Regions from separate parts of the Homo sapiens genome. Here region 1 is linked to region 2. The links come from fine-mapping of genetic effects on gene expression. Tissue or cell type: whole blood. Region 2 holds a variant in brackets; the other region holds the start of a gene. All regions are shown on one strand. Distances are from middle to middle.

What was found. PIP is the estimated chance that this variant, and not a neighbour inherited with it, causes the effect.
Region 1: it holds the start of PDCD4, and the variant in region 2 is fine-mapped to the expression of PDCD4 in whole blood (TOPMed, PIP 0.97).

Annotation. Positions count from the first base shown.
Region 1 is chr10:110,866,902-110,875,005 of GRCh38, reverse strand. It overlaps PDCD4 (programmed cell death 4), which reads right to left and starts at 3,078. Exons shown (of 12, transcript NM_014456.5): 1 at 2,988-3,078. It overlaps PDCD4-AS1 (PDCD4 antisense RNA 1), which reads left to right and starts at 4,102. Exons shown (of 1, transcript NR_026932.1): 1 at 4,102-6,116. RefSeq lists silencers at 2,326-2,525, 2,736-2,885, 2,916-2,965, 7,218-7,287 and enhancers at 3,970-4,580, 7,408-7,457.
Region 2 is chr10:110,798,741-110,806,844 of GRCh38, reverse strand. RBM20 (RNA binding motif protein 20) reads right to left here. Exons shown (of 14, transcript NM_001134363.3): 7 at 6,927-7,058. Among named protein-coding and RNA genes, the nearest start is that of PDCD4-AS1, 68 kb to the left of the region's middle. The variant T/C (reference allele first, on the strand shown) is at 4,041.

The DNA of each region.
Region 1 (8,104 bases), 68 kb before region 2:
TCCTTCTGGTCATTTACAATCAGGTTGCTAGCAGTGTGCTCTTCAGAGATATAAAATGCACAAATTAGTGAAAATGCCTAATAAATTAATTACAGAAAAGCACATTTTTTCCTATATAACTTAACCTACTGTTAGATGTCATTTTAGGATAACAATGATATATACAGAGCCTCCTGGGACTCAAAGGTGAAACTGACTTTTAAATTCCTCATTATGTACTACTATTTGCTAACATAAGTTTATAGCCCTTTTCTTCAGAAAACGGTATTATTTTGTGAAACAAAAACAAATGGACCTTATGTTAAAATTATAGGCTTCTTACTATGGTATAATCCTCAGACTAATATGCTATCATATTGCTTGGGAACTTAAGAAAATGGTGAGATCATTCTCTAATTCTGTTAAGAATAAATTAATATATGTGAATCTTTATAATCACTTTTCACTATAACTCCCGCCAACTTTAGATATGAAAAAAAAATCTTAAAAATATGTAGAGATTCATATAAATATATGAACAAAAATGGTTTGCAAATCTAAACACTCAGCATCCTTCATGGCTGAAAAGGCTACATTCTGTTTTAATTCCATGCATGAAATACATATAGGAAAGGAATAATGTCATATGATACGTGTTTCAGTTTTTTAGAGTTCCATTACAAAGTCTTTTTCATTCTTGATGAAAGTATAACTTTTGAGAGAATACTTTCTGCAGAACCTAATAAGCGAAATGATTATAATTGATGTTCATAAAGCCCTTTACAATTCAAAAAGAATTGTACATGTATTATTTAATGTACCTTACAGAAAAACCTTCGGGTAGGTATTCCACCTTACACACAACTAAACAGATTCAGAGAGGGTAGGTGATATGTCCAAGGACAGACAGCTGCTTAGTGGAACAGCCAGGATGAGAATCCAGACCTTCCAAATCCAGTACTGTTTGCACAAGTTCAATCCAAAATTTTAATATCCCACAGGAAGATTCTTTTCAAGGGTTAACAGAAGCTTCTTAAAACAGACTTCTGCTGTTCAAACTTTTAAATGCTGTTTTCCAAACACTAAAAATAATTATTTTAAACTATTATACAGAAGGCATTCCGTCAGACAAAACTGTCAGGAAATGACTATCATCTCTTTTATTAAGATAAAAACAAAGTTATCTTAATAAAAAAAATAGTCCTGTGTCTTTAGGCAATGATAACCCGATCAGGAACTCAAGTCATATTTGACAGCAACAAACACGTTTTAAGAGTTTAGATAAGACATGTTCCACGTTTTTACGCTCTTTAAAGTAGTAGGATTTTTTCCAATTTATTTAACAACCCTTAATTGGCCCAAACAAGAAAATATAAAGCAAAAAATCCAAACGCTATTTCCTTCATACTAACCTACAAAAATGAATTTTCGATGAGAAAACTATACATACAAGTTAGAAGAAAATGAAGGCTGACATTAAACACTGTTCTTTTCTCCAGTGTGTTACACGAAATATACAATCAGAAGTATTCAACTGCCAAGACATTCCCTAAGAGACAGACCCTCCACTCCCCCACGAAATATATACATATGTATTTCCTGAAATATACCTCATAAATTGCTCTGGCATTTTGGGGAGTCAAGCTTTGGCCATTTATTAACTAGGATTACTTGTATTCATTCTTCGGCTACGAACGGCTAATTAGCAGCTTAAAACCAGCTAAAAGCATTCTACTACAGTAATGCAAAAGCAAGCACTACAGATAATATTCAAGCGGCATTTATTTTTGCAGTCCTAATATTTTTTCCTTTCACATTAGTACCACAGAAAAAGCCAGTCAATTATAATTCAAATACACTTACTGAGATATTAACGTATTCAATAAGCCTATAATGAAGGAATATTAAGGGCATAAATACCAGTAACTCCTTGCTTAAAAAGCACTTGGTGGTTTCCCAAAAAAGTCACGTTAAGAATATCAAGATTGTAACAATTAAAGTAAAAATACAAGTTAAAAACAGGGGAAACCCTTTTTTCCCCGACACCTAATCGCATTTCTGATCGTTTTCATCATTTGTAGACACTACACAGTTGCTGGCTACGTAGCGAGTTCTCACAAGGGGGAGGGGGGCGAAATTGACGTCTGCAGACAGTTTTGAAGCTCTTGCAAAACCCCATGTACGTTACAGCATCAAACTGACAAATGGAGAAGATGGCATGCGTTTCACAGAAAGGGGGCTCCCTTCCCGGCTTTGTTTTCTCTGGGAGATTTTATTTTACCTAAACTAAAAAAAAGAGACCCTTTGCCGGAAGACGGGCGCGACGAAGTTCGCGCAGGGATGGGGCGGCGGGCACGTGTTCGCCTCCCAGCGCCCCCGGCGAGGATAGCGCGCGGCCCCTCCCCACAGCGGCCGGGCCTGTTCTCCCGCAGCGGGCTCAGGCTAGGACCCCCGAAGTCCCAGCCCGGGTCGGCCCCCGGAAGGGGCTGGGCCGGGGCCGAGGCCGGGGCTCCGGGTTCACGAAGGACAGGGGGCCGCATCTTCAGAGGATTCCCAGGGAGGGCAGGGGGCGGGGAGGGCGCGAATCTTCCTCACAGGATTTCAGTCCAGCCGGAAACACGCCTTCCAATCCCGGCCCCCGAATTCAACCTCCGCCAGAGGGGGAGGAGGGCTGAGGGGGACCTTCAAGGGCGAGCGCCTCGCGCGCCCCTCTCAGTGGGGAGATGGCTCCGGGAGGGGGCGGGCCCGCGCCGACACGCTCCAGGCTGGGCTCAGAAAGAGGGAACCAGGCCGGATGCCCGCAGTCCGGGGCGTTGGGGAGGGCGCGGCTGGACCTGCGGGGCTACAAGAAGGCAGCCGGACCCCCGCACCGCAGGCCCGGACCTGACAGGACCGCGACCCCCACGCCTCCGCCCCCGCCCCCTCCCATCTTGCGGCTGCCTCCGAGGAGGGATGGGGGAGAGGGCGCAGTCTTCCCGAGCGTGTGAGCCGCGCCTACTGGTACTGACCCCTCGGGCCCCCGCCGCTGCTCGCCCAGGTTCCTGGTCAGCCGGCCCCGACCCCGCTCTTCTGTCTCTGCCGCCGCCTCGGAGAGTCTCTGGCCCTTCTCGCTCTGTTTGTTTTTGTTTTCTTCTACCCAGTAACACGGGGGCGAGAGGGCGGCGCTTATTGGCCGAGGCCGGGTGGTCGGCTGGCCAATCGTGGCGGCGGAGCCGGAGCTGAGGAGGAAAAGGGAGAGGAGTGAAACGTGGAAAGTTGGGGAGGGGCGCGGGAGGGCGCATGCGCATGTGGCTCCTGGGACTGGCTGGAGCGGGAGTTGAGCGGGAAGTCGGGGTGGGGGTATGTTGGGAGGCGTGGCGGGATGGGAGCGTTGGGAAAAGGGCAGTGCTGGGGGATGGGGACGAGGATGAAGCTTCCTCGACCCAGCTCACCCATTCTCCTCACAGGGCGTTCTGCAAACTCGGCTGAAGCAAAGGTTTTGAGCTTCCTGATGGTCCCTGCCTCCATTTCTAGAAACTGCTTAGGCGAACACTCCAAGTGATCAGCCTGTCCGATTCCTCCTCCCTCTGGCCGCTGCTTTCTCTGTGGCTTCCAGTTTCTGGAGATCCCATGCTAAGAAGTTTCTCTCAGCGAATCCCCTCAAACCTTTGAGATGGAAATAATTCCCATTTCACAGATATAAAGCAGGCTCCAAAACTCTTTGAAGTTCCTTTGCTAATCATGACTAGCCAAGCCTCTGGCGTTCAAACGCACAAATTCCGGCCTCCAGTGCTGGGGTTCTCAGCCATGGCTACAATTTCTGTATTGAAACTTCCACCTCCCCTCGCTGTTCTCTGTGACTTTTCCTCTTGGCTGCATTGGTTTTGGCTGGTACTATCCTTACTCTTTCAAGGTCACGGTCCCCTGAGGGTGATAACCAGAACCTTAGGCTTCCTTTGTGTTCCCAGGCGGGGACTTAGCCACTGCCTCTGATCAGATTTTTCAGTTGTCTGATGGGCAGCACCGAATGATTGCTTGTGCTCTCCAGAACCCAACTGCCTCATCCCGCACAGGCCAGCGCTTTCCCTTGGCTGCCCAGTCACCCTGCCTGGGAATCATCTCTAATGCTACTATTTCTCTGCACACACACGCACACACACACACACAAACCTTCACTGGCTTCCCATTGCCTCTCTTGAGTGTCAGCGCCTCGGTCGGTCATTCAAGGCTCCGTGATGTGACTTCAAGACTTTCAGGCTGTGTCTCCACACATCTCCCCATATGCTTCCTCACCCCCTGGTAGTTCTTTATATATCACCTTGAAATGTCTCTCTTCTCATCTCCTATCTCCGCCTGATGCAATCCTTCTGTGCCTCATGGCCCTTCCTGGTAGTTTTTTATTTTGTTGTTGTTGTTGTTTTATTTAATTGAGGCAGGGGCTTGCCCTTTAGCCCAGGAGAATGCAGTGGCATGATCACAGCTCACTGCTGCCTCGACCTCCGTCAGCCTCCCTAGCTCAACGATCCTCTCACCTCAGCCTCCTGAGTAACTGGGACTACAGGCACAGCTCACTATGCCCAGCTAATTTTTGTATTTTCTGTACACACAGGGTTTCATCATGTTGTCCAGGCTGGTCTTGAACTCCTGGGCTCAAGCAATCAGCCCACCTCTGCCTCCCAAAGCGTTGAGATTACAAGCGTGAGCCACCATTCCTGGACCCTCGTAGTTTTTCTGGAGCCTCGTGATTTGATATGATCTTCCTGCCGCTGATTCCTCACAGTGTTGGCTTGCCACACCTCCAGGGGCACTGATCACATTCTACCTGGCATTATTTCATCTGAGTCCCTGTCCTAGCCCTTCTGCCCATTAGACTGTAACCTTGTTTAGGGAAAGACCTGTGTCTTACTCATCTGTGATTTTGTTGTTGTTGTTGTTTTGAGACAGGGTCTTGCCCTGTTGCCCAGGCTGGAGAGCAGTGGTGCAATCTTGGCTCACTGCAGCCTCAACCTGTTGGGGTCAAGCCATCCTCCCACCTCAGCTTTCCAAGTAGCTGAGACTACAGGCCTGTGCCACCACACCCAGCTAGTTTTTTGTATTTTTAGTAGAGATGGGGTTTTGCCATGTTGCCCAGGCTTCTCTTGAACTCCTGAGCTCAAGGGATCTGCCTGCCTCGGCCTCCCAAAGTGCTGGGATTACAGGCGTGAGCCACTGTGCCTGACCCACTCACCTGTCATTGTAGTACTTAAGATGCCTTGTTCATTTATTGTGCCTGTGCAATAAATACACCTTGATTTGAGTTTACAAAGATTCTCAGCAGTTGGTGGTCATCCTCATCTCCTGGGCGGGGGCCTCCTGGTGTGGCCAGTATCTGAATTAGTCTCATAACTCATGTTCACTTTTTAAAATCGGAGCTTCCCAGACCTCAGTTTTGTTTTGTTATTTTCCATTATCTGCAGCTGTCTCCTTTCCCCTCTCTCACCTATACTCTACTGATCAGTGACTGCTGGCTCCTTTGTTACCCATCCTTCTCTTTCTCCACATTTTTTCTCTTCTCATCCCTTTCAGTTCTGGACTGTTTCCTTCTTCCTCCCTGTCTTTCATTTAGTCATTCATTGAATGTACTTACTAAGCACATATAGCATAATCAGGCTGTGTTGGGTAGGCATCCCGAGTTCTATGAGATAAAGAAAGAATGGGATATGATTACCAATTTTAAGAAGCATCTAAAACAACCTGTTATGTTTTAGCAAATTGCCCCCAAAGGACCCATTAGGGAGGAAAACGTTCATGTCCTTTTTGCGTATCATCTCAAGCAGTACCCATGATGGCTGGGATCCCAGAACCCACCTTTGAGAATGCTGCCGTATTTGCGTGTGGTTGACAAGGTTGGGCCAGACACTCAGGAAATAGGGTTGTCGTCCTACCTCCCCCACTAACTTCCTGTAAGAACTTCAGCCCCTCTCAGGACCTTTTTCTTTACCAATAAAATTCAGAAATTGGGCTCAATCAGTAATTCCCAAGTTATTTTCCAAAGAACATGAATTTTGTGGAACTTTAATAGATATCATGCAAAAAAAAATGTGGGAGGGATTGTTCCATGGTCAAATGGTCTTGGAAATAACTCGTTTAAACAAAAATAAAACTGTTTCTTTACCCACAACTCTTCTCAGTGGTTTTTTGTTTGTTTGTTTGTTTTTTGAGATGAAGTTTTGCTCTTGTCGCCCAGTTTGGAGTGTAATGGCACTATTTTGACTCACTGCAACCTGTGCCTCCTGGATTCAAGTGATTCTCCTGCCTCAGCCTCCCCAGTAACTGGGATTATAGGCGCCTGCCACCACGCCTGGCTAATATTTATATTTGTAGTAGAGTTGAGGTTTCACCATGTTGGCCAGGCTGGTCTCGAACCCCTGATCTCAAGTGATCTGCCCTCCTCGGCCTCCCAAAGTGCTGGGGTTACAGGCATGAGCCACCGTGCCCAGCCTTCTCAGTGTTTTTAATAAGCTATGTGCCTTTAGTGTCTTGGGAGACCAAGGTAGGAAGATTAGTAATGTTTCCTACCTTGTTTAAACACAGAACCTTTTTTTCTCAAGATACCCCAGAAGCAGTGTTATTTAGAAACCAACTTGGGAAATATAGATGACAGCCACTGTCACCAACATTCCTTCCAGCTGTGTTGAACACTTAGTCACCTGTGCCTTTGCAGCTGAACATTTAACAAAAAAAATTTTTTTAAGAATAAGCTGAAAATGGAGAAGTATCCAAGTGCCAAGAATTTTTGCCTACCAAATCAATCCACAAATATTTTAGTGTGTGCCTGTTCTATGAAAAGCACAGTTGATTCAGCTGTGTTCTTGGTAAAAGGCATTATACTACTTTAGGGTAGGTAATATCTGAAGCCTAGGGCTGCCCGGGCTTCTGGGCCACAATGTATGTTTTCATTTCACGTTGTAATTGTCACAAACTAGGTTTCTGTTACCTGAATCCCTGTGCCTATGGGCTTATGTTAATTTAGCTATTAGATGACAGAAAAGGAGAGAGGCCTTCCCCTTAACTCACTCTATACAGAATAATGGAATTGCAACTTCCATTTCCCTTAAGAAAGATTCATTCCAAGAGCTTAGGAGAGGAAGGGAGATCACAGTTGCCCAGAACAAGACAGCTGCTCAGAGGTGGCAACAGAAACTCTGTGCTTTGTGAGTAGATAAACGTTACATACTTCATCTTCCCCGTACTCCTCAGGCTTAAGCAGTATTGAGATACTTGGAGGGGCGCAAAGAGTGTTTGGTTTTGTCAGGGGAGAGGGTGGGAGATAGTTCCTATTTTTCGCCTCTTAAGACAAGGTAGTGACCCTGTCCCTAACTAGCTGTGTTGCTTTGGGTGTTTCACTTCCTCTCCCTGAGTGAATTGAATGCTTCAATTTTCTGTGCTGTAAAAGAAGGAGGTGCCCATTGCAGGGAGTCCATAAGCAGCCATTCAGTTCTAACACCCTGGGATGCTGAGCAAGGTACTGAGTTGGTACCATGGGAGTCCTGGGAATGGAGAACAAGAGATAAGAAAGTTTGCTGGCCGGGTGTGGTAGCTCATGCCTGTAATCCCAGCACTTTAGGAGGCCAAGGTGGGCGGATCACTTGAGGCCAGGAGTTTGAGACCAGCCTGACCAACATGGTGAAACCCCATCTCTACTAAAAATACAAAAAAATTAGCTGGGCGTGGTGGTGCATGCCTGTAGTCCCAGCTATTCAGGAGACTGAGGCAGGAGAATCTCTTGAACCTAGGAGGCGAAGGTTGCAGTGAGCTGAGATCCCGCCACTGCACTCCAGCCTGGGTGACAGAGACAGACTCCACCTCAAAACAAACAAACAAAGGAGTTTGCCACTGTTGGCAGGAGAGGATTCCACCGGGTATGGACAGAGGGACTGTCAACCCAGGGGCTTTCTCCTAATGCAAAGCTCAGATAATATCACCTCCCTCCATCCCAAAGGCAAAGTGATGGCTGGTGTGGGTTTAGGAGCACTAATTAATTAATTTGGGTAAAGTACTTGAAAAAGCACAGTTGAAGGCAAAAGATAAGCACCTAGATTTACTATTAATGCCTTTGGAACTCTCCAAGGCCTTTTCATTCTTAGGGTAAAGCCTCATTTGAGAG
Region 2 (8,104 bases):
GCAGGTGAAACAAAGCTGTAATCACCCCAGAAAAATTGAAATGGGAGAGAAAAGAGTAGGTCTATGATAAAATTTTGGTTACCTTTTCATTGTAGAAAATTTCAAACATACACAAAAGTAGAGAGAATGGTTTACTGAACCCCGAAGAATCCATTACCCATCTTCAGCCAACAATGATGACTAATCTTGTTGCATTTTGATATGGTTTGGTTCTGTGTCCCCACCCAAATCTCATGTTCAATTGTAATCCCAGATGTTGAAGGTGGGGCCTGGTGGGAGGTGACTGGATCATGTGGGTGGTTTTTAATGGTTTAGCACCATCCCCCAGTACTACTCTCGTGACAGAGTTCTCACGAGATCTGGCTGTTTAAAAGTGTGTAGCACCTCCCTGCTCCCACTCTAACTCCTGCTCTGGCCATGAAAGACATGTCTGCTTCCCCTTTGCCTTCTGCCACGACTGTAAGTTTTCTGAGGCCTCCACAGCCATGTTTCCTATGCAGCCTGTGGAACCATGAGCCAATTAAAGCTCTTTTCTTTATAAATTACCCAGTTTCAGGTAGTTCTTTTTTTTTTTTTTGAGACGGAGTCTCACACTGTGTCCCAGGCTGGAGTGCAGTGGTGCGACCTTGGCTCACTGCAACCTCTGCCTTCTGGGTTCAAGCGATTCTCCTGCCTCAGCTTCCCAAGCATCTGGGATTACAGGTGCCCGCCACCACACCTGGCTAATTTTTGTATTTTTAGTTTAGGTTTCACCATGTTGGTCAGGCTGCTCTTGAACCCCTGACCTCAAGTGATCCGCCCACCTCGGCCTCCCAAAGTGCTGGGATTACAGGCGTGAGCCACCACGGCCTGGCCTCAGGCAGTTCTTTAAAGCAGTGTGAGAACGGACTAATACACATCTGTACTCACCACCCTCCTTCCCCACCCCCTATATTATTTTGAAGCAAACGTCAGACATTGTTATCTTTACATCCATTCTGTGATGACAATGATTCCGCTCAACAGCCCCACAAGGGACCAACTACAGTGCTCAGAGTTAACACATCTTGCTGCTTTTAAGACAAGGGTGAGATTCCAAGCCCCATGCAGTCCTAGAAAAGTGCTGGCATATTAAGAGGGAGGCACCACCACTAGGAATCTCAACCCAGGAAGAGCAGCCCCAGCCCTGCCCGCACCTGGCTAGGTCACCCTGGGTCAAGGCTTATTGCCGATGGGAAACTCACTTTCTCCACCAGTGAAGGTGGGTTAATGAGGCCCATCTGGCATCCACCAAAAGCCTCAGGGCATGGCAGGCTACACCCGTAAAAGTCACAGAGTGCTTGGCCAACATGAAGGGAGCTGCTGGAAAGTTTCATGCCCTCTGACAACTCCACACCTGTTTTACACACTTCAAGAGTCCTGGGAAGACACTGAAACCTTCTAGATGAGCCCAGAACTCATCTGAGCCAGATCCTGTCAAGGCAGCCCTGACTGTTTCAACATTACCAGGCTTTCTAGGCTCGACATCATCACTCACCCGACTCCTGCCTGGAAGCTCTGTCTCTCTTTAGCTAATTCTCCCCTTCTTCAAGGCCTTGTTTAGGAATCTCTTCCCTTTTTCACACCCCTCAGTCACACTGCCTTTTGCCATGGAACTTCTGGTAGCTCCTGTACTTATGCACTCATGTTTAAATCTTGTGTAATTTTGCACAAGAATAATTTGTCTCCCAGTTGGAGAGTGAACTCTTCCCAACTGAGAACCATGTCTTGTATTGCTTTGTAACTATCAGCACATAGAGAAGACTCTCAATCATCTTCCCAACTGAGAGCACCATGGACCATTCACAAGACTGCTTCCCAGGGCCAGAAGCCCTCTCTGTAGCGAGGAGGCTGGCAAGACCAATGGCTCTGAAACCAGACCCTCTGCCCTCAAAAGCACCTGGGAGTCTCATTCCCACCCGAAGCCTATTGAAGAGAATCTCTGGGCAAGAGGACTCCCCCCACAAAAAATCCCCTGATGACCCTCTGATGAAGTGACTGGGAGACACTGGTTTAAATTATTCCAAGTTCACTTCTGCATCAGAGAGATTATGATTCCATACTTATTGACGAAGTTTCCATAGAACAACCCAGAATATATTCCAATCATCTTGTCCAGGTCTGCAGGAAGAAGGCTACTCACTTTTTGTTGTTCCTTCAGATTTTCTCTTTCTTATTCATTTTGCATATTTATTAAACATCTATCATGTGAAAGGTTCTGCCTCAAATAAGCTGAGGAACTCCCTTGCCACAGGAAGTATATGGGGAGATAAGATATGTGCATGAAGAAATATTCAAGAGAGGAAATGAAAAATACCTTAAAATCTCTCCCTTCTCTCCCTATACTTTACCTGGTGAGCAAAAGATAAAGTTAGAGGAGAAAGAGCAATCAGAATTTCTCCCCACCTCTGCAAACCCTGGTGGGACCTCATATGCAGCCCCTTTGGCCCAGAGACACACATGGATACAGTGTTTGCCCTCTACCTTCCCGGTAGCCACTCTCCCTCCTCCTGATAGCAGCTGTTCCTCCCTCATCTTGCTCCAGAGCTCTAGGTGGGTCTCTGTCCCAGCTCTGAGGATGTAGCAGATGACACAGGTCCAGCCAATCACAGCATGGCCTAGCCCTGGCCAGAGATCAATTCAGGAATGTGCACCTGTGCTAAGCTAGTCCAGTCAGAGCGACTCTCTCTCAAAAGTCTCAGGACTTTTGTGGGAGCTTCTAGGAAAAAACTCTGGCTTTCTCTTGTTGAAGGAAAGGGAAGGGGGAGAAAGAGCTGCTGAGGTCACTGTAGCCATCATGCCACCTAGAGGAGAGAGCCTGGGCTGCTACGGCCCATCCCAGGGAGCCCCCAGTAAACAAAGCCAAAAGAGCAGAAGGCAGCGTGGAGAGAAACCAAGTCCTAATGAGGGTCTCTGGGTCCTGAATCCAGCCGCACCTGCAGCCAGATCTACTCCTGGACGTTTCATTTACATGCATCCATAAATTCTTTTTTTTTTTTTTTTTTTTTTTTTTTGCTTAAGCCAACAGGCTTAATGGAGATGAATTTCTGTTACGTGCAGACAGAGTGGCAGCTGATTCATATCAACATAGGGACCATAAAGCATGCATTACTATGTAGTTGAGACATACATTAAGTTGTTTTCACATCTGTTATTCCATGCGACCTTCACAATGCCTTAAGAGGGAATATGGCAGCTTGGGGAGCAGAAAAGCCCTGCTAAAGATCAGAAAATAATGTGTTCTGCGCCCTTTCTATTCAAAGTGTTCTCCGAGGACCACCAGCAGCAGCATCTCCTGGGACCTCGTTAGAAATACGCAATAACAGCACTACCCTAGATATGCTGAATCAAAGTGAGTTTTCACAACATCACCAAGTGATCTGTATGCACACTGAAGCTTGAGAAGCTCTGTTAGAATACTATCTCTGCGGCTTCTTGGCTGGGTGACTATAAGCAAATTACCTGATTTCTCAGGTTTTTTTCACATAGACAACAGAGATCATGATAACACACTATAACAATGCAGCTTTAGTGCAAAACCAAAACAGCACTAAGTTTTAATCATAGCTCTTCCAGTAGCTAAGTACAATCCTGGGCAAGTTCCTGAATTTCTATTAGCTTCAGATTCCTCATCTGTAAAACTGAGATAATAATACCTGTCTAACAGGACTGATGTCAGGATTAAATAATGTATGTAAACTTCTTTGCCCCAGAGTACCGGGACTCAATTAAAGGTATACATTATTGTTATTGTTGTACTCTTATAATTACTGCTATTATACACCCTACACACTTCACAGGGTACAGTGATTACGAGACTGAAAAGATAATGTATGAAAAAAAATACTTAAAGCCAAATAACTCAAAGTATAGTCCTTTCCTGATCTGTAAACTGAGGTTCACAGAGGTTAAGCAACTTTTCTAAGCTCACTAAAGCAGGAAGCGGTAGAGCCCAGGCTGACATCACCATCTTCCAATCTAGGATAGGTCACATGGTTGTCAGTGGTTCTTTGTTTATTTGC[T/C]TTTTCTCCCACCAGACTGAGCTCCTCGCCAGCTTGCTACTTCTCCCTCCATGGCACCTGGCCCAGTTCCACCCACGGTGAGCACTCAGTGCACATTTGCTGAAAGCAAAACTCGACCATCTGACCTCTTTAACCCATGTTTTTTGCACCACCCCAAACTATCTCCCTCAGGAAGGTATTGCTATGCTTTGGTACTTTAATTTAAGAAGCCAATTACTGCCGTTAATCCTAATTAGAAACTTATGACAACATCTCATTTGGAGACCAAAGCTCTACTGGGAACTTAGTGTAGAAATTCAATTCCAGCCCCCAGGGAAGAATCCAGGAGACCAGGAACTTTGGTTGGATATAGAATGGGGTGGGATGCTTACTTGTCTGAAAGAAGCAATATACTTTTATTAGGAAAAAAAAAAAAAAAAAAGCCAGGTTCTGCCTGAAGGAGAACTGTTAGTAAAGGAATTTCAGAGGCAATGATGCAAGCAAAGCAGATTCAGGACTCTGGAAGCTGGTTGACACAGTGCCCATCTACATATGGAGACTTGTCAGAATGCCAGTCCTAGCCAGAAACATCCACTAAGCCTTTGTCTTCTAACTTCAACCTTGAAGGTGGATTAAGGCCTGTGGGTCTTAGACAAAATGGACCCTAAGTCAATGTGGAATGAGCTAAAGTGAACGGGAAAATCCCTATTAAATGGAACAGTAGAAAGCACAAAATAAGAGGGTAGATTCAAACACTAATACAGCATTAATTACAAGAAATCCAAATAGACTACGTGCTCCAGTTAAGAGAACTCCTGCAAACCAATAAGAAGACACAATGCAAAAGAAAAGCATGGGCAGATGACCTGAAAAGAAACAGCCCATCAGAGAAGATCCAGATGGAACAGCCAACAAACAGATGAAAAAGTGCTCAATCTCCATGCGCAATTAGGGGAATAAAATATAAAACTGTGATAAACTGGCCAGGCACGGTGGTTCACGCTTGTAATCCCAGCACTTTGGGAGGCTGAGGCGGGCAGATCATAAGGTCAGGATATTGAGACCATCCTGGCCAATATGGCGAAACCCTGTCTCTATTAAAATACAAAAAAAAAAAAAAAAAAAGTAGCCAGGCATGGTGGTGTGTGCCTGTAGTCCCAGCTACTCGGGAGGTGGGGAAGGAGAATTGCTTGAACCTGGGAGGTGGAGATTGCAGTGAGCCAAAATTGCACCACTGCGCTCCAGCCTGGTGACAGAGCAAGACTCCGTCTCAAAAACAAAACAAAACAAAACTGTGATAAACCATGATACTCTCCCACGACAGGCAAAAATTTAAAAGTTGGACAAGACAATGTGTTAGCAAGAATGTGGACCATTGAAAACTTTTTTTTTTTTTTTGAGACGGAGTTTCACTTTTGTTGCCCAGGCTAGAGTGCAGTGGCACAATCTTGGCTCACTGCAACCTCTGCCTCCCAGGTTAAAGCGATTCTCCTGCCTCAGCCTCCCGAGTAGCTGAGATTACAGGCGCCTGCCACCACGCCTGGCTAATTTTTGTATTTTTAGTAGAGACGGGGTTTCACCATGTTGGCCAGGCTGCTCTTGAACCCCTGACCTCGTGATCCACCCACCTTGGTCTCCCAAAGTGCTGGGATTACAGGGGTGAGCCACCACGCCCGGCCGAAAACTCTAATACACTACTAGTAGGAGTATAAATTTGAGACAACTAATTTTGGAAAGAGCTTGCTATCATCTAGGAAAGTTGAGGTAAGCATGCCTTATGATGCAGCTATCTCAATCTTAGTTATGTATGTACCTCTAGTTATATGCTCAAGTGCATATATACCAGGATGACATGTTTGAGAAGGTTCAGATTAGCCTTGTCCCTAAAACAACTCAAATGTCCATCAACAGTAGAATGGATAAACTGTATAGCCATACAATGGAAATGTATATAACAATGAAAATAAATAGACATGCCCAACAACATGGATGGCATCATGTTGAATGAAAGAAGCAAGATCTGTAAGAACACAGCATAATTCCATTTATATAAAGTTCAAAAACAGGCAAAACTAAACCATAATGTTTAGGGAGGCATATACAGGTGATAGAACTATAAGGAAAAGCACAGATATGATTATCATTGAAGTCAGGAGAGTAGAGAGGGAGGGGTTGAACAGGAGGAGGGACTCACGGGAGCTTCTGGATGCTGTCCATATTCTATTTCTTGACTTTGGTGGTGGTTTTACGGGATTTGTGAGATCTCACCCATTATTACTTTTTAAACCATACAATATATAATCAGCCATTTTTCTGTGTGTTCTGTTATACTTCACAATAAAACAAAAAAGAAGGAAAGAAAAGAAAGAAACGTAGATCAGCTAAAACAAAAGCAAACCCTGGTTTGGAACTATTTGAATGCATCCCTGAGTTCTGACAGTGGCCAATTCAGCCAAGGGCTGCTTAGAAGGACTTCTATGAGGCTTAAGACGTAAATATGAAGGAGAGAGAAGAGAACAAGAGATCAAGGGGGTGACAGAAGAAGAAAATGTTACTGAAGGTCTGTATAGGGAGAGAAGGTTGTATTCAAGGGTTTATGCCTGGAACTCTCAGCACCTTTCCCTTCTGACTTCCTCCTTTAAAAGTTCCCCTGTGAACATCTTCTTCTGGAAAACTTTCCTTGGCTCCCAGGTAGTCTCAGGCGTCTCTTTGCACTTTGTATTTACCTCAAGAGCACTTTTCTTGCCATGCTGCAATGGTTTGCCTCGAGATCCTCAAAGGCAGTGTGTAATTTCTGAATCTTTTCCTATCCTCTCCTTTCCACCAGCGTTTAGGTCAGTGCCTAACACGGAGGAGAAACTCATCTGGTGCTTGTTGAATGACTGAATGAGCAAGATAATGCTTTACCTTGAGCTGCAATTCCTTGTATCTCTTGGACATCCGAATGAGCAACTTCTCACCATTGATCACAGCAGATTTTTCTTGATAATACTGGACCATGGCCTGTGCAGCTTCTGTGTAAGCCATCTCTAAAAAGGCCTAAGAAAGAAAGGAAGGACACTCACTGGACTTGACTTTAATGGTCTTAAACAAGATTCAGCACAAGGCATGATTCCACGTCTATGAAGTTCAAGAACAGGCAAAACTAATCAACGGTGACAGGAGTTAGCATTGAGCTTCTCTCTCAGGTGGGGATGGGGAACTGATGGAGAAGAAGCATAAGGAAACCTGACATTCTGGAAATGCTCTATATCTTTACCTGGGTGTTAATTATATGGGTGTACACATGTAACCGATTAATGGAATTGTACACTTAGGATGAGTGTACATTATGCACTGTAGAGTATGTGTTTTATACCTCACTTAAAAGGAAAAAAAGTCAGCACAAGGAAGAGATCTCTTTGATCCCATCTGTTCAAAGAGACCTTTTTATAAACATCACCAAAAGAGCTCATTATAAGATGGCCCTTTCCTGATCCCCAGGGTTACCAGACATTGTTATTAATTATGTATGTCTGTCCTGGGCTACATCATGCCATGGAATACCTCTGAGATGGAAGAGCCCACTAACCCACATTTCCCTGGAGGGGCAGTTGCATATGTGGCCTTGAGCTGATCCCTATAAAACTTGCTCTCTGGTGGTGATGGTGACAGCAAGAGACACAAGCTTTGGTTATTTGAGTTCTACTTTCCTTATAAAAAAATTCAGGAACTCACAAACCCCTAGGCTTGAAGGAAGGCCATGTTGTTGTGAGTTAAAGAAAAAGGAAAACTTCCCGATTATGTTTCCACAGCATCTTTCTTCTTTATTTAACTGCTCTGATAAAACACAGACAAATGGGCTTTTCCACTAAACCTGTGTCTACTGAGAGTTCCAAAGAGACCGTTTTGACTGTGCATCAGTTTACCCCAGTAGTTGGTGTGGTGAATTTGTTGCTGCTATTGTTTTTTGGATTTGTTTGGTTTGTACTATACTGACAATATACTGATCCTGATTCCTCAATGCTGCAGGGGAAAAGGGGTCGGTGACAGGGAAGCCCTCACTGTGAGCCCCTGACTCTCTCATTTCCTTAAACTAAATGATC